2 separate regions of the Homo sapiens genome follow, and region 2 is linked to region 1. Evidence: fine-mapped expression QTL. A gene starts in region 1. The other region holds a variant in brackets. All regions are shown on one strand. Distances are from middle to middle. Region 1 holds the start of CD93 (CD93 molecule). Region 2 overlaps LINC00656 (long intergenic non-protein coding RNA 656).

Evidence for each region.
Region 2: its variant is fine-mapped to the expression of CD93 in follicular helper T cells (Schmiedel 2018, PIP 0.95). The same link has a PIP of 0.9 or more in Th17 cells and Th2 cells.

Annotation. Positions count from the first base shown.
Region 1 is chr20:23,080,712-23,091,450 of GRCh38, reverse strand. CD93 (CD93 molecule) reads left to right here and starts at 5,127. Exons shown (of 2, transcript NM_012072.4): 1 at 5,127-7,192; 2 at 7,477-10,739. The coding sequence starts at 5,259. The coding sequence ends at 7,501. RefSeq lists enhancers at 3,297-3,436, 4,964-5,143.
Region 2 is chr20:23,117,862-23,128,600 of GRCh38, reverse strand. It overlaps LINC00656 (long intergenic non-protein coding RNA 656), which reads left to right. Exons shown (of 4, transcript NR_034149.1): 4 at 2,063-3,533. Among named protein-coding and RNA genes, the nearest start is that of LINC00656, 9.4 kb to the left of the region's middle. RefSeq lists an enhancer at 10,163-10,342. The variant C/T (reference allele first, on the strand shown) is at 3,957.

The DNA of each region.
Region 1 (10,739 bases):
CAGACGGGTGTCCTCGAGTGGGGTTGCCTGCAGCAATCCTGGCATCTTTGTGCCCAGGGTGAACCTTGTAGCACCCCTCACCTCTGTACAACACAATGACTTTCAGAAATCATCATGTCATAATCAATATTAGTGATTTTCCTAGTTTTTTAAGTTTTAAAGCAAACGATTAATAAAGGACAAATTTCAATTTTACAAAAATGTTATTCAAATTCTGTTAAGCGCCTCATGTATGAACTAAAATCTGTACTGACAAACAAAAATATCAGGTCTCACAGTTTTCACTCTGTTTCTGTTTTAAACTTTGAACACAAAATCCCTAAGTGGTCCCATAGAATGACAGGTCACAGTGACTCCAGTTCTGTTTCATTTCCTCCACCATTTCTGTGCCACTGTTGCTCATTGTGAGTCTACCATATACCATGTTATGCCAGGAAATACGCAGTGTGCTTTGTTTCCCTTTTTAATTTAATTTTTAGTTACAAAAAAAAAAAAAAAGGAAAAAGACAGGCCGGATGCCTGAATGATCCACAAACCAATTAGTCTGCTCCCAAATAACTGAGATTAAACTCGCCCCATATTTGAGATCAGAACATTCCATTCCAGCATCGTGCAAAGTAAATTTTTAAGGCAATTTAAAAAGAAAGCTCAGAGTACTCATAAAGACTGCAGAATACACACAAATGGTGAGGAGCCTTTTGCTCAGGGTACATGCCATGCTGTTAGGCTCGCCATGGTTCTAGAACACCTAACGTGGCTTCCGTCCAAAGATCTGCCGAGAAAAACTTTTTCCATCTCCTTCTGCTGATTCCTGCTGTTTAAGTATCGGTCCTTGGAGAGGTCTGGTATAATCTGCTCTCTAAATAAAATGGGATGAAACACCATCCATGGGGAATTTAGTATGTGAGGTGCAGAATTCCCTCAAAGTTTGCATTCAGACTATCTTAAATTCTTTGTAAAACTCCACCAAATCCCTCCCAGGAAAAGCAAGCTCTTCATCCTCCCCTGAGGTCGAAGCACCATGCCCTCAGCCTCTACGAATCCCCTGAACAGCCTCTAAGGAGCGTCCCCTATAGGTGGGAGCGGACACAGAAGGGCGGGGCTGGAGCTAGAGAACCTAGCTGTAAGTGTCCCAGGTGAATTAACCCACCTGAGCCCAGCAGGGATCAGCCAAAGGGTGAAGGGACACAGTGGAAGTCAGATGTGGGGGACAAGGAATAGGAAACTACCCTGTGTCTTGGCAGTCAGCGGGTCAATTTGGGATGAAATTGGGTGTGTGCAGTTTAGACAGAGGTTTGCTTACATGTGCAGTATGTCGAGGGCTCAGCAATGGTCTCAGTGTCCACTCTCTTCCCAACTTGCTTTCTCCCTAATTCCAGAGGGGAGAGTTAAGCATGATTTCACTTTTATTAATGTTAGAGCAAGAAAGTTTCCAGAGGCCCTGTTCCCACCTCTGCATTTATAGATGAGAAGTGGGGCTGAGTTAACCAAGTTACTGAAAATAATAAAGTAAAATCCAAGGACCCCCAGGGCAAGGCAGTTTCTGCATTTTACATAGTCTTTCTCACTGTTGGTGCTTTACAAATACTTCCAAGGTTAATGGATAAAAAACAGAGTATATGTCTTGCTAGTTCATTTTCTTCTTTAAGATGTCATCACTTGGCTAAGTGAACAGTAATTGGTTTGAAAGTTCCCACATGGAAGATGAATAACTTACAGCTAAAGAAGATATCTTGACAAAGATCTGGGGGTCAGAGTGGCTAACATGCTGAAAGTCACTCATTTAGCCCATATCCTTAAGCACCAACTAAGTAGAATGCTGAGCGAATGCTGCAGATCACAATCTACCTCTGAGGAATCTACCTCCGAGCTGCACAAACAGGGGCCTAGACCACGAGAACGGCTCCCTGCTATGAGTGGATGCTAGGGCTGCAGAATTGATTTTACAGAATGTTAAGAAGTTACCTGCTTGTAAATAAACCCTTAGAAATGAAGCTTCTCCCAAGCAGAGAACAAGACTGACCCTTGCCAAACTCAAATGCATGGCCAGCTATATTGACTGGGAGCCAGGGACACCAGCCTTCCCTGGACCCCTCACAGCTGGCTGCTTACCCAGCTCTGGTGGCACACTTAGCGTCCCGAGGAGGCAGGTCACAAGGACAGGGGGTCTGGGAGACCCTGAGCCCCAAGAGGCAATCCCCTGTGTTCTCAGAACCAGGTACCTCCAGCGGACACAGCCTTCCAGGACCCCAGCTCCCGGCAGGAGCCATGCAGTCCTTCTGCGTGCCCGGTGCCCTTCCCCCCACCTCCACCCAGCCCCGAGAACATCTGACCTGGACTCCACAGCCTGGAAACCTGCGGCCACCTGCTGAGGGCCCCCCCACCCACTGCTTGGGTCCACTGACCAGTCCCCTTCCACATGTAGGCCTCATGCCAGCCCTCAGTGTTTCCCCGTGGATTTCAAGACGAAGCCTCAAGCCTTCATTACTGGGGTTCACAGGGCTCCATCTTCCCCTGCATCCTCCCTCCCACTGCCTGGGCTTTGGTCTCCCTGCCCTTCACTCACTCTCTGTCCCCAGGGCTTCTGTACATGCTGTTCCCCCATCCCGACACCATTCCACATCTGAGCTGCTTCTCCTTTAGATTCCGGCTTGACTGCCTGTCTTCTCCAGAGGAGTCTCTCCTAATTGCCCATCCCCCAGTCAGGATGCCACCCCTGTATCAACCACGACCTCCCCGCTCCCCTGTGCTGCCTGCAATAAAGCCATCAGTGCCGTGACTTGTTCAAAGTTGTCCACTCTAACAGGACTCCAGGATCACAGAGGCAGGGATCCCCTCCTGGAATCCAGTGCCTCACTCAGTGCATAGCAGGGTCTTAATCAACAATTGTTAGATGGGTGGATGGACAAACAGATGGATGAATGAAGGGGCACAGGGAGGGTCTGGTGGCTTCTATGGAGAGTTCCCAAAATGTCTCAAATATCTTTGCTAAAATGCAAGGACTTAAGGCACATTCTTAGGAGGTATCCAGCTGGAGTCAGAGATGCCTCCTTGTCCCTTGGGGAGCCAGCGAGCTCCTAGCCCCCGGGACAACTCAACATCTCCATGGAGGCCACTGTGGTGGTCGCTGGTGCCGGGTCCACAGGCGTTCACTGTGTTCTCCACCGTGGCGCTTCTTCCCCTGGGGCCCTCACGGTCAGTGCAGAGCACCAAAGAGTTGCCGCTGTGTAGAGAATTCTTATAATTGTGCATTGCATCCATTTTGAATCTAATTTGGACCCTCTCCTACCAGAAGCAGGGTTTATTGCTCTTGACACGGTGTCTAGGGCTCCACCCCCTCCCAGTTCCTCAATGCGGCCAACCCAGATATCTGCCTTGTACACCCACCTCCTGGTGACCATTTCCCTGTGGGACAGGCAGATACAGCCCATTTGATGGTCTCAGTGACTCCACACCCCACAGGGACTTCCCAGACATGCCGCCATGCCCACCTCTCAGCCACAGGGACCCCACGGAGCCCGTGTCTGTTTGCTCTAAACCCACCAGTGAGAAGTCCCCTTGGGAAACCTGCTTGGGAAACGTCCTGGACCCCAATAAAGGCTTAGGACCCAGGTCTCTCTCTCTCCCTTCACCCCCCTCCAGGTGAGTGTTTGTGACCCAGACAGCTCCCCACTTTTTGCTGGCCCCGTGGGGTGCACTGCCCTCTCCCTGGGATCTGTAAGTGACACGGTGCTTGTGTTGCTTCCTGTGTCTTCTTGTGCTGCCTCCTGCATCTCCCCTGACCCACACCCCAACCCAACTCTCCTCCCATCAGGGATCTCTTAGGAAGTGGCTGTCTTGATAGGAATAAACTGGACATGGGTCAGACGAGAGCCACAAGGGTGTCTGTCCATAGAAACAAGTTTTATGTGAGAGAGACCCCTGGTCACTGGGCAGGGCTAGAATTTATAGTCAGTCTCTCAAAGTGAGAGATACAGCCTGCTACCAATGACAGGGGACTTGGAGAGCAGTGGAGCCTCTCCCTCAGCTGAGATGGTGCTGAGGTGTGGTCCCCTCAGGCCCCCAGAGTTTCCTGGCACTGGCTCCAGCAGCCCAGGGTCACCTTCTCAGCAAGTCATCATGGGTTGGCTTCCTCCTTGTCTGTTTCACTTCCCCTCCCACATAAACTAGTCTCCCCAAATCCTGTCTCAGGGTCCCCTCCTGGGGGATCCCAACCAATGAGCAAAGGTCTGTGGCTGCAGGAAAAGCACACTGTGAGTCCCTGGCTTTTGCCGAGTCGCGGTGTCGCGGGAGGGCCTGCCCGGGCTTCGATTCCCGCTCCCTGCCCAGATTTCCGGCCCTTGCTAGGAATCCTGAGCCGGGGGAAGTGAGCCTGCAAGCCCTGCGCCACGAGGCCGGACACATTTTCATTTTCTTTCTGATGCTTTTTGTGACCCTGACACCTCACAATGCAATATTTCCACTATGAAACCCCCAGAACTGCCAAATTTCACCCAATTTGGATTAACATTATCGAGGAGCTTGGCATTATGTTGAAAACCCAGACATTCCCACGACCCGTATCCTATTTAAAAAATGCCTGTCTATTTAAGGTTCACGATGGGAGGATAAAAGAAAAAAGGCTCCCAAAGTCAACAGAGAACATGAGCTAGGCAAAAGGAAAGTCCAGTTTGCTTCTAAAAAAGGCTGAAAATTATAACCATCCATGGCCTTGTGTCTTAAGTCTCAGAATTTTTTTTTTCTCTTTTGGTGGTTTGCAAACCAAAGTGGAATTTTATTATGGGTTACTAAGGGAGCTTCCTCGAGTTCCTAGCCCCCAAAGCCCCTGCTCACTCCATGGCATGCCTCCGAGGCTCCTCATGCCATGAGAAAGAGAATGGAGCCAAAATCAAGCCGGCAGTATCTCGGGGCTGTAACGTCTTCCCCCCGTCGCTGTTTCCACAGTGCTGAGCCAGGGACCCGGCAGAGCTGCCTGACTCCTTTTATGAACAACAGCACCGTGATGAAGGCAGCAGGAGTCAGAGAACTATTCATTGCAGGAAGCCCCAACATCCGGTGAGAAATAAGAAGTACAACAGTACAGGATGCGCCTTGGGTCAGGGGGACGTGGAAAGCCCTCAGCCTTTGTGTCCTTCTCTGCGCCGGAGTGGCTGCAGCTCACCCCTCAGCTCCCCTTGGGGCCCAGCTGGGAGCCGAGATAGAAGCTCCTGTCGCCGCTGGGCTTCTCGCCTCCCGCAGAGGGCCACACAGAGACCGGGATGGCCACCTCCATGGGCCTGCTGCTGCTGCTGCTGCTGCTCCTGACCCAGCCCGGGGCGGGGACGGGAGCTGACACGGAGGCGGTGGTCTGCGTGGGGACCGCCTGCTACACGGCCCACTCGGGCAAGCTGAGCGCTGCCGAGGCCCAGAACCACTGCAACCAGAACGGGGGCAACCTGGCCACTGTGAAGAGCAAGGAGGAGGCCCAGCACGTCCAGCGAGTACTGGCCCAGCTCCTGAGGCGGGAGGCAGCCCTGACGGCGAGGATGAGCAAGTTCTGGATTGGGCTCCAGCGAGAGAAGGGCAAGTGCCTGGACCCTAGTCTGCCGCTGAAGGGCTTCAGCTGGGTGGGCGGGGGGGAGGACACGCCTTACTCTAACTGGCACAAGGAGCTCCGGAACTCGTGCATCTCCAAGCGCTGTGTGTCTCTGCTGCTGGACCTGTCCCAGCCGCTCCTTCCCAGCCGCCTCCCCAAGTGGTCTGAGGGCCCCTGTGGGAGCCCAGGCTCCCCCGGAAGTAACATTGAGGGCTTCGTGTGCAAGTTCAGCTTCAAAGGCATGTGCCGGCCTCTGGCCCTGGGGGGCCCAGGTCAGGTGACCTACACCACCCCCTTCCAGACCACCAGTTCCTCCTTGGAGGCTGTGCCCTTTGCCTCTGCGGCCAATGTAGCCTGTGGGGAAGGTGACAAGGACGAGACTCAGAGTCATTATTTCCTGTGCAAGGAGAAGGCCCCCGATGTGTTCGACTGGGGCAGCTCGGGCCCCCTCTGTGTCAGCCCCAAGTATGGCTGCAACTTCAACAATGGGGGCTGCCACCAGGACTGCTTTGAAGGGGGGGATGGCTCCTTCCTCTGCGGCTGCCGACCAGGATTCCGGCTGCTGGATGACCTGGTGACCTGTGCCTCTCGAAACCCTTGCAGCTCCAGCCCATGTCGTGGGGGGGCCACGTGCGTCCTGGGACCCCATGGGAAAAACTACACGTGCCGCTGCCCCCAAGGGTACCAGCTGGACTCGAGTCAGCTGGACTGTGTGGACGTGGATGAATGCCAGGACTCCCCCTGTGCCCAGGAGTGTGTCAACACCCCTGGGGGCTTCCGCTGCGAATGCTGGGTTGGCTATGAGCCGGGCGGTCCTGGAGAGGGGGCCTGTCAGGATGTGGATGAGTGTGCTCTGGGTCGCTCGCCTTGCGCCCAGGGCTGCACCAACACAGATGGCTCATTTCACTGCTCCTGTGAGGAGGGCTACGTCCTGGCCGGGGAGGACGGGACTCAGTGCCAGGACGTGGATGAGTGTGTGGGCCCGGGGGGCCCCCTCTGCGACAGCTTGTGCTTCAACACACAAGGGTCCTTCCACTGTGGCTGCCTGCCAGGCTGGGTGCTGGCCCCAAATGGGGTCTCTTGCACCATGGGGCCTGTGTCTCTGGGACCACCATCTGGGCCCCCCGATGAGGAGGACAAAGGAGAGAAAGAAGGGAGCACCGTGCCCCGTGCTGCAACAGCCAGTCCCACAAGGGGCCCCGAGGGCACCCCCAAGGCTACACCCACCACAAGTAGACCTTCGCTGTCATCTGACGCCCCCATCACATCTGCCCCACTCAAGATGCTGGCCCCCAGTGGGTCCCCAGGCGTCTGGAGGGAGCCCAGCATCCATCACGCCACAGCTGCCTCTGGCCCCCAGGAGCCTGCAGGTGGGGACTCCTCCGTGGCCACACAAAACAACGATGGCACTGACGGGCAAAAGCTGCTTTTATTCTACATCCTAGGCACCGTGGTGGCCATCCTACTCCTGCTGGCCCTGGCTCTGGGGCTACTGGTCTATCGCAAGCGGAGAGCGAAGAGGGAGGAGAAGAAGGAGAAGAAGCCCCAGAATGCGGCAGACAGTTACTCCTGGGTTCCAGAGCGAGCTGAGAGCAGGGCCATGGAGAACCAGTACAGGTAAAGGGGGCCCTGAGTGACCGGGGGAGGGGATGGGCAGGCATGGGGGCACTGACTACAGTACAAAGAGGTGGCAGCAAGAGCAGGCCCAGGTTTCCTGTGGGCAGACACACCCTGGTCCTTGCAGCTGACCCCTCAACCTCCCCCCACGCCAGGCACTCGGGCCCCCTTAGAGCATACTGCCCATCTGCAGCACGGCCGCACGTGGGGCTCTCTCCCAAGGTGGGGACGTGCAGGCACAGAGGCGCCATGGCTTCCAACGCTGTCTGTTTTGTTTCCCATAGTCCGACACCTGGGACAGACTGCTGAAAGTGAGGTGGCCCTAGAGACACTAGAGTCACCAGCCACCATCCTCAGAGCTTTGAACTCCCCATTCCAAAGGGGCACCCACATTTTTTTGAAAGACTGGACTGGAATCTTAGCAAACAATTGTAAGTCTCCTCCTTAAAGGCCCCTTGGAACATGCAGGTATTTTCTACGGGTGTTTGATGTTCCTGAAGTGGAAGCTGTGTGTTGGCGTGCCACGGTGGGGATTTCGTGACTCTATAATGATTGTTACTCCCCCTCCCTTTTCAAATTCCAATGTGACCAATTCCGGATCAGGGTGTGAGGAGGCCGGGGCTAAGGGGCTCCCCTGAATATCTTCTCTGCTCACTTCCACCATCTAAGAGGAAAAGGTGAGTTGCTCATGCTGATTAGGATTGAAATGATTTGTTTCTCTTCCTAGGATGAAAACTAAATCAATTAATTATTCAATTAGGTAAGAAGATCTGGTTTTTTGGTCAAAGGGAACATGTTCGGACTGGAAACATTTCTTTACATTTGCATTCCTCCATTTCGCCAGCACAAGTCTTGCTAAATGTGATACTGTTGACATCCTCCAGAATGGCCAGAAGTGCAATTAACCTCTTAGGTGGCAAGGAGGCAGGAAGTGCCTCTTTAGTTCTTACATTTCTAATAGCCTTGGGTTTATTTGCAAAGGAAGCTTGAAAAATATGAGAAAAGTTGCTTGAAGTGCATTACAGGTGTTTGTGAAGTCACATAATCTACGGGGCTAGGGCGAGAGAGGCCAGGGATTTGTTCACAGATACTTGAATTAATTCATCCAAATGTACTGAGGTTACCACACACTTGACTACGGATGTGATCAACACTAACAAGGAAACAAATTCAAGGACAACCTGTCTTTGAGCCAGGGCAGGCCTCAGACACCCTGCCTGTGGCCCCGCCTCCACTTCATCCTGCCCGGAATGCCAGTGCTCCGAGCTCAGACAGAGGAAGCCCTGCAGAAAGTTCCATCAGGCTGTTTCCTAAAGGATGTGTGAACGGGAGATGATGCACTGTGTTTTGAAAGTTGTCATTTTAAAGCATTTTAGCACAGTTCATAGTCCACAGTTGATGCAGCATCCTGAGATTTTAAATCCTGAAGTGTGGGTGGCGCACACACCAAGTAGGGAGCTAGTCAGGCAGTTTGCTTAAGGAACTTTTGTTCTCTGTCTCTTTTCCTTAAAATTGGGGGTAAGGAGGGAAGGAAGAGGGAAAGAGATGACTAACTAAAATCATTTTTACAGCAAAAACTGCTCAAAGCCATTTAAATTATATCCTCATTTTAAAAGTTACATTTGCAAATATTTCTCCCTATGATAATGTAGTCGATAGTGTGCACTCTTTCTCTCTCTCTCTCTCTCTCACACACACACACACACACACACACACACACACAGAGACACGGCACCATTCTGCCTGGGGCACTGGAACACATTCCTGGGGGTCACCGATGGTCAGAGTCACTAGAAGTTACCTGAGTATCTCTGGGAGGCCTCATGTCTCCTGTGGGCTTTTTACCACCACTGTGCAGGAGAACAGACAGAGGAAATGTGTCTCCCTCCAAGGCCCCAAAGCCTCAGAGAAAGGGTGTTTCTGGTTTTGCCTTAGCAATGCATCGGTCTCTGAGGTGACACTCTGGAGTGGTTGAAGGGCCACAAGGTGCAGGGTTAATACTCTTGCCAGTTTTGAAATATAGATGCTATGGTTCAGATTGTTTTTAATAGAAAACTAAAGGGGCAGGGGAAGTGAAAGGAAAGATGGAGGTTTTGTGCGGCTCGATGGGGCATTTGGAACTTCTTTTTAAAGTCATCTCATGGTCTCCAGTTTTCAGTTGGAACTCTGGTGTTTAACACTTAAGGGAGACAAAGGCTGTGTCCATTTGGCAAAACTTCCTTGGCCACGAGACTCTAGGTGATGTGTGAAGCTGGGCAGTCTGTGGTGTGGAGAGCAGCCATCTGTCTGGCCATTCAGAGGATTCTAAAGACATGGCTGGATGCGCTGCTGACCAACATCAGCACTTAAATAAATGCAAATGCAACATTTCTCCCTCTGGGCCTTGAAAATCCTTGCCCTTATCATTTGGGGTGAAGGAGACATTTCTGTCCTTGGCTTCCCACAGCCCCAACGCAGTCTGTGTATGATTCCTGGGATCCAACGAGCCCTCCTATTTTCACAGTGTTCTGATTGCTCTCACAGCCCAGGCCCATCGTCTGTTCTCTGAATGCAGCCCTGTTCTCAACAACAGGGAGGTCATGGAACCCCTCTGTGGAACCCACAAGGGGAGAAATGGGTGATAAAGAATCCAGTTCCTCAAAACCTTCCCTGGCAGGCTGGGTCCCTCTCCTGCTGGGTGGTGCTTTCTCTTGCACACCACTCCCACCACGGGGGGAGAGCCAGCAACCCAACCAGACAGCTCAGGTTGTGCATCTGATGGAAACCACTGGGCTCAAACACGTGCTTTATTCTCCTGTTTATTTTTGCTGTTACTTTGAAGCATGGAAATTCTTGTTTGGGGGATCTTGGGGCTACAGTAGTGGGTAAACAAATGCCCACCGGCCAAGAGGCCATTAACAAATCGTCCTTGTCCTGAGGGGCCCCAGCTTGCTCGGGCGTGGCACAGTGGGGAATCCAAGGGTCACAGTATGGGGAGAGGTGCACCCTGCCACCTGCTAACTTCTCGCTAGACACAGTGTTTCTGCCCAGGTGACCTGTTCAGCAGCAGAACAAGCCAGGGCCATGGGGACGGGGGAAGTTTTCACTTGGAGATGGACACCAAGACAATGAAGATTTGTTGTCCAAATAGGTCAATAATTCTGGGAGACTCTTGGAAAAAACTGAATATATTCAGGACCAACTCTCTCCCTCCCCTCATCCCACATCTCAAAGCAGACAATGTAAAGAGAGAACATCTCACACACCCAGCTCGCCATGCCTACTCATTCCTGAATTTCAGGTGCCATCACTGCTCTTTCTTTCTTCTTTGTCATTTGAGAAAGGATGCAGGAGGACAATTCCCACAGATAATCTGAGGAATGCAGAAAAACCAGGGCAGGACAGTTATCGACAATGCATTAGAACTTGGTGAGCATCCTCTGTAGAGGGACTCCACCCCTGCTCAACAGCTTGGCTTCCAGGCAAGACCAACCACATCTGGTCTCTGCCTTCGGTGGCCCACACACCTAAGCGTCATCGTCATTGCCATAGCATCATGATGCAACAC
Region 2 (10,739 bases), 37 kb before region 1:
GGCCGCCTGTTCCCTAAGTGCATATTGATTGAATAGCGCTGCCTCAGAACTAGGCTGCCTGAGTTTGAATTAGGCGCTGGTGTTAATTAGCTGTGTGATCTTGGGTAAGTGACTCAATATATCTGTGCAAGGGGGATAACCATATGGTCTTCCTTATGGGGTTCTCATGATGATTAGTTCATAATATAAAGTTACCCCCCCACCCCATGCAGAGATGAGGCGGAGGGGCTGCCACCAACCAGGATGACGGAGGAAAGGGGGAGATGCTGAGCAGGCTGAGGGTTTCGTGGCTGTCCCTGCTGCTGGCTTCACAGTCTTCTTCCCGCTGTGCCACTGCCCATGCCAAAACCACATTCACCATCTATCCATGCAGCAGGGTGACCTGCAGTGCATGGAACCCCTGGACCCCTCGGCCTCCCAGGGCCAGCCTGCCCCATCCCTCAGCCCGGTCACTGTTCCCAGGCTTTAGGCCCTGTAACTCTGGCCTGTCCAGCTCATTTCCAGCCTACAGACCTCTCTTGGGTCCCCAAACCCTTACTTAGGCCCCAGCCAAGGCAGAGCCTGGCTGTCTTGGACCCTGCCTCTCCCTGCCCAGTGTCCAATAATCCACAGCACTCCCTTCCACAGCCATGGGCCCACCCTTGACAAGGGCTATGTGCCCTGGAACCCGTGCCTCTCACCTTCACGCCAAACTCCTCCTTTTCCTAGACCCCTGATTCCCAGCGGGCCGAGGTCAAGCTGCCTTGCCTAGTTTCTGTCTCCTGTGGCCCCTCGATGCCAGCTCCTCCCTGGCCAATCCCCATTACCAAAGTCCCCCATTCTAACTTCCAGTGCCCAGGCCCCAGTCCAGGCATCTCCGGGTCCATGTACTAACTGCCATGCCCATGTGACCCGAGTACCAACCTCTGCCCACTCCACCTGGAGTTAAACCTCCTGGCTGTGCTTCGGCCAGGCCAAGGGCCCTGATGTGCTGTCCCCAGCCCTTAGTGGCCCACAGCCCCTGGGTTTCCCTGCGTTTTGTGCCCCCTGCTCACATCCTGCTCCGTGAGGCCTGCTGGCTCTGATCTCCAGCCCAGGCCTGGCCCCGCATCAGGGCCCCTTTTCTTCCCAGGCTCATGGCTCCCACTGGTCCCAACTCAGGAGTGAGATTCCTCAGAATCCTGTGGCCCAGACTCCTTTCTTCTCCCACTCAGGCAGCCCCCTCAGTCCTGACTCCTTGGGGTCCCCTTGGTCCCCACCTCTTCGCTTCCTTTGATGCCTCCTTGCCTCTCAGCTTAACCTCTTTACTTTGCTGCCCTCCAGGAATTCTTGATTGTCCCTGACCCCAGCTCAGTCCCCTCCCCGAACCCCACCAAGGCAACCCCCCAGCACTCCTGCCTGCCCTCCCGCATCAGCCCTGATCCTAGTGCCCAAATCACTCTAAGTCCCCTTGCCTTCTGCTATAGCTGTATCTGGTGTTCTAGAATCTTCTGGTCTCTAGTTTTTCTTCCCTCCAGCCTGGCCCCTCAGGTCCCTGCAAGGCAGGACCTGAGCTCCCTAGGCAGGGGTCCCCTCTGCATGTACTCCTGCCCCCTCATTTCTGAGCCCAGGCCCTCAGGCAGGCCCCTCCTGTTGGAACATCTCAGGTTCAGCCTGTGACCCTGGACCCCCAGCGTCTGCCAGGCCCACGGGAGCTCCAAGCTCTGGAGACAGATCCAGACTTCCCCCAGGTCCCCTTTCACCCCAAAGCCACATTGTTTCCATTTAGAGCAGTGGCTGTCAACAGGGTGACACTGGGTGACATCTGATAGGTTTTGGTTGTTGCTCAACACCCTACAGTGCCCAGGACAGTCCCTATCACAGGCAGTGGTTGGCCACAAATGCCCACAGTGGCGAGGTGGGGAGACCCTGGGTTTGAGTGACAGCCTAAACCCAAGGCCCCAGGCTCCCGGGGGTGGGGGCGGAAGGCCAGGAACCCCTCATGTCCTGAGTAAAGTTTACATGTGGTTAGGCTTTGCCAGTGCCGTCCAGTAGTACTTTTTGTGATGATGGACGAGTTCTGTATCTTCATTGTCCCGTACAGGAGCCACCAGCCACAGGCAGCCACTGAGCCCTTGGCATGTAACCCGGTAACCCATGCAACAGAAGACCTGAGCGTCCAGTGTTGCTAGCTTGAAGTAACTTCAGTGGTGTTCCCCAGCGTTTTTCTCATCCCCCTCCCTTCCCTTCCCCTACAGCTTTCTTCCTCTTTCCCCTCCTTCTGAGTCTTTCGTCCCCAGTCCTGGGAACCTTTTTTCTGACTTGGTGTTTTCTCCTGAATGCCTCCTTCCTGGCCCCCTAATCAGAAATGCAGAAGCCACCTGCCCCACACAGGGGGCCACTTTCCCTGCATCTGGCACTCACCAGGACAGTCATAGAACTGGCCTTGGGTGCTTGGGGAGAGTGGAGAGGTCTGGGGGGCATCCACTGGCCTCAGCCTCAGAGCTTCTCATCAGTAACCCAGGAGGCAAAGGCCCAGCTCAAGATTAGCCCAGGCCACTGTATCTGTGCCAAGACCTACAGCTGTCCCTGCAGGGCGTGCATCTCTGCAGCCCAGGCTATCACAATGGTGTCCCTTTTGGTGGGGATGTGAGGCCTGCTGCTGCCTGGGAAGAAGCTGACAGGATTGTTGGTGCTGTGGGGAGAAGCTGGTGTAACTGAGACCCATGAGGGAGGCCCTTTGTGGGTCTGTGGCTGGGAGGAGCTCTGGGGAAGATGGGCCTTGAGAAATCCCAGCTTAGCACCTTTGACAGTTGCTCCACTGAGTCACCCTAGACTGCAATCTCACAGATGTTCTAACCACCCTCTCCCTGGGGAGCCCTTGGGGGTGCTGCAAGCCCAGTCCTCACTCACTGGCTTTGTGCTTCTCTTCCCGACTTCCTTTTTTTGCTCCTGTTGAGAAATGTGGGTCCAGGGCTGCGTGCTCCAGTGTGCGGAAGGAAGGGCAGCGTGCTCTTTGGACTGAGCTGGCTCAAGGGAAGCTGGGTCTGAGGGGAGACTGACCTCGACCCTTCTTAAATGAAACACCTTTTCCCTGCGTCTCAGTCACCGTTACCTGGCCTGATCACTGTGTGCCACACCCCATCACATCCATCCCCACAAGAATGCCAGGAGGAGGGGTCATTGGCCTTTTTGTCAGCACAAACCTCTGGAGGCCCAGCTCCCAAGACCCGCCAGGCACACCTGCCAGAGTGCCTTAACTTGGGATGTCTGCAAACCTCTGTCCATGGCCGAACCCACCCCACTGCCTGTTACTGTAAATAAAGGTCTATTAGCATGCCACCATGCCCCTCCTCCGATGCATACAGTGCCCAGCTCAGCACCTGGTGCAAGTAAGCACAATCTGGCTTCCAGCCATCACTGCTGTTGCTACTAACACAAATATTAGGCCCCTTCTAGAATGCAAAGATAACCCAGGGCTGCTCGTTCTGTGTCCAGATCACAGAGTTTTTCTTTTTATCCTTATCAACTTTATTGAGGGATAATTTACAGGCAATAAATCATATCCATTTAAAGTTATTGTCAAGCTTTTAAAGAATTAAAGTTCGTCTTCTTCAGAAGCTTACCGAGGACTACAGGCTGTGGCGTAGAGCCCTGGAGCAGCCTCCACTGAGGTTCTGTATTTCAGGTCACAGTTGACATATAGGTGGGAGGTCCAGTACGTGCAAAGTCACATGAAAGCTTGGGTGTCAGAGTGCATCAGGTTATGGATTCAATTACAGAGCAATAATCACTGACCCTGTCAGATGTTATCTTACGTGTAGGAAAAGGTAAGACCAGGGCCATTTATCTGCAAAGAATATAGTGACTCAGGCAAGAGTCCGGAGAGGGTGTGTGCTCCATCCTGTTTTGTCTTCAGAGCATCTTTCTGGGGAGCTGCACATCGTTATAGAGACAGGCACTTTGTGAAATTCTGCTGCCAAGCACAAATGAGCAAA[C/T]GTGGTTTCCTATGTTTACTACTTTGTCTCACAAAGCGCACATTCACAGTGCATTATTAAGGGGCCCTGGCAGCACCGCCACAGTGTATCTCTGCTCCCTCTTAAAGTTCCCCGTGCCCCTTGGCAGACAGGCCCCTCTCACTCCTGGGCCCAGGCTACCATTGACCAGCTTTTTGCCACTAGAGGTTAATTTTCATTCTATGTGATTGGAATCATACAGATGTTCTTGTATCTGACTTATTTCACTCCACATAGTGATTCTGAGATTCAAATGTTGTGTGTATCAGTTGTTTGTTCCTTTTTATTCCTGAATGGGAGAGGGGATGTCAAGCTGCACAGTTTTATTCCTGGGCTACAGTGGAGATGGATGGTTCTACCGTCTCTCTGAAACACCATCTGCAGTTTCTTCAAAATCTACCTACACATCTTCCATCCCATCCTGAGGAGTCCCCGAGGGTTGAGAAATGCATGACCCCACACCTGGCTGACGTGTACAACTGGCGGAGTTAGTTTTTCCTGTTGACACTGGCCACGGGCGCCTCAGCATGCACAGCCCTGGCCTTGCTCCTCTAGGCATGCTGGGGGCTTGTCCACACGTGTGGTCTACGGATGGAGGAGAGTGGCCTCTGGCCCATGCGTGCCATGCACTGGACCTTCCCAGGGAATCAAGTTACATGATGTTTCCTTGAGGAGCTACATACAAAGTAAAAAACTGAAATCAAGAATATCAGTCATTTCTGAATATGCCAATTCGCCCATGGTGCAGTTTGTACAGCTTAATCACTGCAGAACAGTTTTGAGGATAAAATTAACCAAAAACCTAAGTAGACAAAATATTCAAATTTTTGGAATCTGTCACAAAAATCCACAGATGACTTATTTTCCATTGTAGCTTATAATGTCCAAAAGCCTTTCTAGTGACTTATAACTGATGGTGAGCTCCCACTCTGTGGCAGCTGTGGGACACTGGTCTAAGGACTACACCCTGATGCCTGGTGAGTTACAGAGGCCATGAGAAGATGTCAGTGAACCTGAAAGCCAGGGAGAGGCTGTGTTCCTGCCGGACTGTGGGGCTCCTTCGCTCCCCTGCTGTGGCCCTTGGTCAGGCCACTTTCCCTCTCTGGGTGTCAGTGGCTTCATCTACGAAGTGATAAAAAACTAATGCAAACCAGAGCAAAATGAGATAACACGGGGACCCCTAATGTCCCAGGGAGATGGTGAACTGAAGCACCGCGTGCGGTGAGTTGTTGCTGTCTCCACCCCTCAAGGAGACCGCAGCTTTGCAGACGTGTGGGTCCCATCATCGGCCCCATTCTACATTCCTCCCTGTGTCCCTGCCATCGCCAGGTGACTTTGCTGGGCCCTCCCACCGCCCTAACTCCCAATCCCAAGATCTTCAGTGAACGTGACGCGCACAGCAGAGGCCCAGAATGTATGTGTGCATGTGGTGACAGCTAAGCCTGCCTGGAGCAGAGCCCCAACCCTGCAGCAGCTCAAACAAGCTGAGATCAGCAAATGCACATCTGACTCTCAGACATGGGGGCAATAATAATAAATGCTGTTTGAGTTTTGGGGTCTTTGGCTACACAGCAATTGCTCACCAATATGACAGGGTTGTATGACGTGGCCATGCGGAACTGTATTATAGGGGAAGTGGTGAACAGTGTGATGAGATTTTAAAGAGGAACAGATTTACCACTGACTTTAGAAATCATGGAGGAGAAATCTCTGGGGTTGCCCTTGAAGGGTGTGTGGAGGAGGACATGGGAGAAGGGGGAAGAACCGTGGCATCCTGGCTAAACAGACACAGGGCAGAGGGAGCCTCTGTGTTGGGACTAAGATGGGGATGTCGGGGAAGGGACATGGCAAGCTGACTGTTGGTGGGGAAGGCACGTGTGGGGCTATATTGTGATCATTGTGATGTATATACATTGTCACCTCCTACTGTCTCTGAGTCCGGCTGTCCCAAGCCCCCGCCGTGGAATCCAGCAGTGTTCGGGCCAACTCTCAGAACCTTGGCTTTGTCTGGGGGACCCCTCCCAGACCACTTCACCTGCAAGCCCTCCCACACGGTGACATGACAGCCCCGCTGTCACTGCACATGATGGAGGCCCATAGGGTGGCCGACCACACTCCTGCCAGGTTGTGGGGACCTCTGCCCAGGCGCTGACCCTTTGCCCAACTGGGCAGTGCTCCAAAGCACTCAGAGTAGGAGTGCAATCATTTTTCATTCTTAGATTCAGTAGGCACACTATTTTGTCCAATTTCCATCCTTGCTTCATCATGTTAACGAATTGTGTGGACCTGTGGTGGCTCCAGGCACTGCTTGGCTTAGCATAGGCTTAGGGCACAGACTCAGGTCAGACAGGGCTGGGTTTACATCTCACTCTCAAATGGTAAGATCTTTTTTTCTGGTAGGGGAAGAAGAATTAGTAAAAATCTCTGAAACTCAAATCACTCTTGCTCCAAAACCACAGGAACACGTAGATGCTCTAGTTGACATATGAACACCCCGTAAATGTCATCATCAGGGTTGCTAATCAGCTGTACGTAGAGAGGCAGTGCTGGTGTCATCAAAAGCACAGCAAAAATAACAACAACCTGGAAGCGAGGAATGGATTCAGATCCTTCTCTCAGAAGGGGCTTTGTCCTGCCGTCGTGACCTCTGCTCAGTTCCCCAGGACAGGTGGGGGCCTGCAAGCCCAGCAGGTCCTCCAGGCTACCACCCTCCCCCTCTGCAGCCCCCACCACCCCCACCATCCTGTGCCTGGCCCTGGCTCACCAGCCCAAGCTGACCACCAGGCAGGTCTCAGCAGCAGTGCTCTCCGCTGGAAGTCGGCTCCTGCTTCTCGGGAGGCCTGAGCTCAGAGATGCAGGATACAGAAGGCTTCAAACTCCTGCCTTTCTGTTAAGAAAAAGGCTCTTATCTCTTGAGGAGTCACAATTCAGATAAGAGGCATCCAGCAGCAGGTTCCAGAGCTGGGAGGCCCGAGGAAGTGCAGCTTCTTGCTCAGGCATGGGACGCACAGGGGCGCTGGGCAAGCATCTTTTTGTGGATACACATGCCTGGTGACAGCAGTCCTGGGGGTGGGGCGGGGCATGCGGGGGGCAGGAGGGGAGGAACCCAGGAGCCATCTGCCCGACAGAAACAAGGCCTGCCGCACAACATCCAGGCGCAGGGGGCTAGTTCCGAGAGGAAAGTCTGCTTTCTTGGATTTGGGGCAAGTTTCTCATGTATCTACTTCTTCATCTGCTGATTTCTGTGGTGAACCTCCTCATCTGGCAAGATAAGGGGCAGCTTGAGAGATGGAGGGGGGGATGGGGTGCAGGGTAGGAGGAAACCAGAAGCAGGTCCTGAAAGCTGCAAGAAGTCGGTGCTCTAGGAAGGTGCTTGAGGTCTAGGCTGCTTGTGCTGGGAGACAGAGTGAGGCAGGACAGAGCCCAGACTGTGGCTTTGGTGGAATCCAAACAAAGTTAGCGGGTTTTGGCTGGGGGCGGGGGGTGGTGGCTGAGAAGAGAGTGTGCCCTAAGGAGTTGGGAGTGTCATGGGAGTCAATTATTTAATCAGCAAATGTCTCCTGAGGGTCTCTCCTGTGCCAGCCCTGCAATAGCTGTGCTGTGCAGAAGGTGAGCAAAACCAACCAGTGGGCTCCCAGCCCAGGGTCCCTGCTGGCGACAAGTTGTCGGCTACCACCACACGCATGCTTCTCCCCACACGCGTGCTTCTCCCTAGCCAAGCAGGAGGCAGTGGAAGAGCCTCTGGGAACCTTGTCCTTCAATGGGCAGTTGTGAATCATGGCAGAACCCTTCTTGAGAAAGGCAAGGTTGGAAAAACTGGAACCTGCCCTCGCAAGGCTCAAGTTGGAGACATCAGGGGCCCAGAGGCCAGAAAGAACCCTGCAGTCTTTGCTCTGTGTATGGTCAGGTGCTTGGGGCTCAACTTAGTTTGCAGATACTCCACCCCATCCCACCCCATCCCAAAGCTGACCTGAGACAAGGAAGGAAAGGGCAGGGAGAGGACCGGATTGTGGCCATGCAGGGGAGGACAGAAGCATGGCCACTGCAGCGTAAAGCGGGCCAGGGGAGGTCTTACTTTGGGTGTCTTAGTATCTGATTTGCACTGAGAAAGGGGTCACTCTGCAGCCACACCACACAGGGCAAGGGGCAACTGGGCTACCATCAGGTGTCTGCTGCCACAGCCTAGGCAAGGGACTGGGGTGGTCTGGGGAGGAGGGCATAGTGCTGGTGGCAAGAAATGGACATTTGGGGATGGACGAAGGCATGGGGTTTGCTGAAGTGTAGGAGGTGGAGGAAAGGGGGACATGGTGTGTGCGGACCGTCCGGAGGGAATCAGGCTCAGCCATGCTGAGTTGAGGGAGCCCTAGGGATACTCATCCATCTGTGGATCTGGTGCTGAGGGAGGGTCCCAGCCAACCTCCTCTATGTCATTGCACGCAGCACCCGGGGTCTAGGGGGATGTGAAGAGCATGGAACGGCTCTAGCAAACCTCAACACCAGTGCTCAAGGAAGCAGCGGGCTCAGGAGCAAGGATGTTGCAGGCTGGGAGCTGGTAAGCCTGGGCTGCGGCAGGCAGGCCTGGGCAGGGCAGAGGCGCAGAGCCCAGCTCTAGGAGATGTGGGAACAATGAGCGCCTTGGCTCTGGGTAGACAGACGTCCCTCCCAACAGATCCTCAGTTTCTGTAACTCTGGCCTGTGATGGTTGGGACTTCTCGGGCTGTACACTCAGCACAGAACATGTCATTGTTCCAGGCACAGGAAGGAAGCTTAAAATGGGTGGACCTACCAAAAAGGCTGGAGGGAGAGGGGCAGGGCCAGGAAGTCGGGGTGCATTAGTCCCTTTCCTGAAGGACCCCAGAGCCTGAAGAAGGGTCTGGCACTGTATGGGCACTCAAGGCGCATTTGCAGCCTGAGGGCAGGAGTGAGCACGGGAAACTCCTACAGGACTGGACCCAACAGCCAGGTCACCCCCATTGCAGAATTCTGGTGCACCCTCAGTCTCCTGAGTGACCCCACATGGCTCCTTCTGCCCTTTTTCTCATGCGGAACAAAATAAGGAAGTATGTGAGCCAAACAGTGTAGCCTTGGCTGTCGCACAGCTGGAGGTCAGGTCTTCTCTAGCTGTGTGGCCTCCAGCAAGTTACCTGGCTTTGCGGGAGCTCAGTGTGCTCATCTTCAAAATGGACACCATAACAATGACATTTTGGGATGACTGTCAAATCAGGGATGATGTATAGAGATGATAGACTGGCTATGTGCTTGCATATAGACCTACAAATACCACTCTTTTGAAAGGAGAGGGAGGAGCATGGACCCAGCCCAGCATGTGGGAAAGCCCAGGGAGGGTTTAAGGTGTTTTATGTTTTGGCAATGGAGAACAAGGCGGTGGCAGACGGTATTACTCAACGCTGACCCCAGCAATATTTCTGGCCCCACGTGCCCCTCTTGAACCTCGCCACCACCCATCATAAGCAGAGACTGTGTCCCCTCCCTTCATACCCCCGGGGGACCTTTGTGCTGCTTCAATGAACAAACTGTGGTGGAAGTGATGCTGCACAACATCCAAGGCCAGGCCGTAGAGGGCATGGAACTTCTGCCCGATCTCTCGGGGCATGGGCTGCGGGTGATGGTGTTGAGCTGACAGTCAGAGGTCCAGCACCCTGAGGCTGCCACGCTGGAGAGTGCATGTGTCAAGACCACAGGGAGATGGAGAGAGATGCCTGAGGAGCCTCGGCTGCTCCAGCCCACATGCTGGGTGAGGGATCCAGGAGCTTGCATGAGCCCCGCCCAGATGGCATATTTGTGAGTAAAGCAGATGTTGTTGGATGTGTGTCTGAGGACTGCGGAGGTTTGCTACACAGCAACACCTGACAACGAAGGGTTCTTGGTCAGAGGCTCGGTCATGAGTGGGTTTGTAACACCTCTTCCCAAAGCCAGCTTCTCCCCTAGGGCTGTGAGTGATTTGAGGGCCAAGCTTCCTGGCATCAAACTCTTCTCCCCGCTGGTCTTTGCTGATGCATTCATCATGACATAGAATTTCATTCACTGGGCTGCGGCATTTTACTCTTTACCCAGAAAGTCATTTAAACTCTAGTGTGAATGAGTGTGGGGTGATTTTTCCAAAGCAGGGGGCCCTGGGTGCCTGAGAAGAGAGTGAAGAGCCTGAGGGACACCTTTTGGAGCTCCTTCCTGCCCAGACCCCAGCTGCAGCTGTTCTGAGAAAAGCCTCTGTCAGCGTGGGCTCAGGGACTGCCCCTCCTGCGGCATCCCCCTGCTGTCCTCTCACGGGCATTTCCCCAAGGGCCCGCTCGTGTTAGAGCTCTAGCTCTCCGCTGGTCACCTTCAGACTGACGATATATTCACTCCAGGCCTCTTGCTTCTAATTTCTCAAGTGAGTTGCCATTCATACCAGCCCCTCATCTGCCTCACCGGACTTCCCACCTAATGCAGCCAGGGTGCCCTCTGCTTTGCCCACCACTCCAACAGAGGATGTCTGCCCTAAAGCCTGCAGGCCCCATGCCAGGGCAAGGCAGGCCCTGCCTTCCACCAGGTACAAGGTACAACACAGAGTGGCATGCAGCCACTGCTAGGGAATATTTTTTGTTAAATTGTGGCCCAAGGGAGGTCTGGGCAGGGCTTGAATACTCCATTCAGAAGTTATGGCTGATGTGCCCTGGTAGGCATGCGTGTGGCCTGCTGGCGGGAAGCAGCTGCTGCTCGCTGTCCCAGAGTGTCCCCTGCCTCCTGACCCCTCCCCAGGGTTCC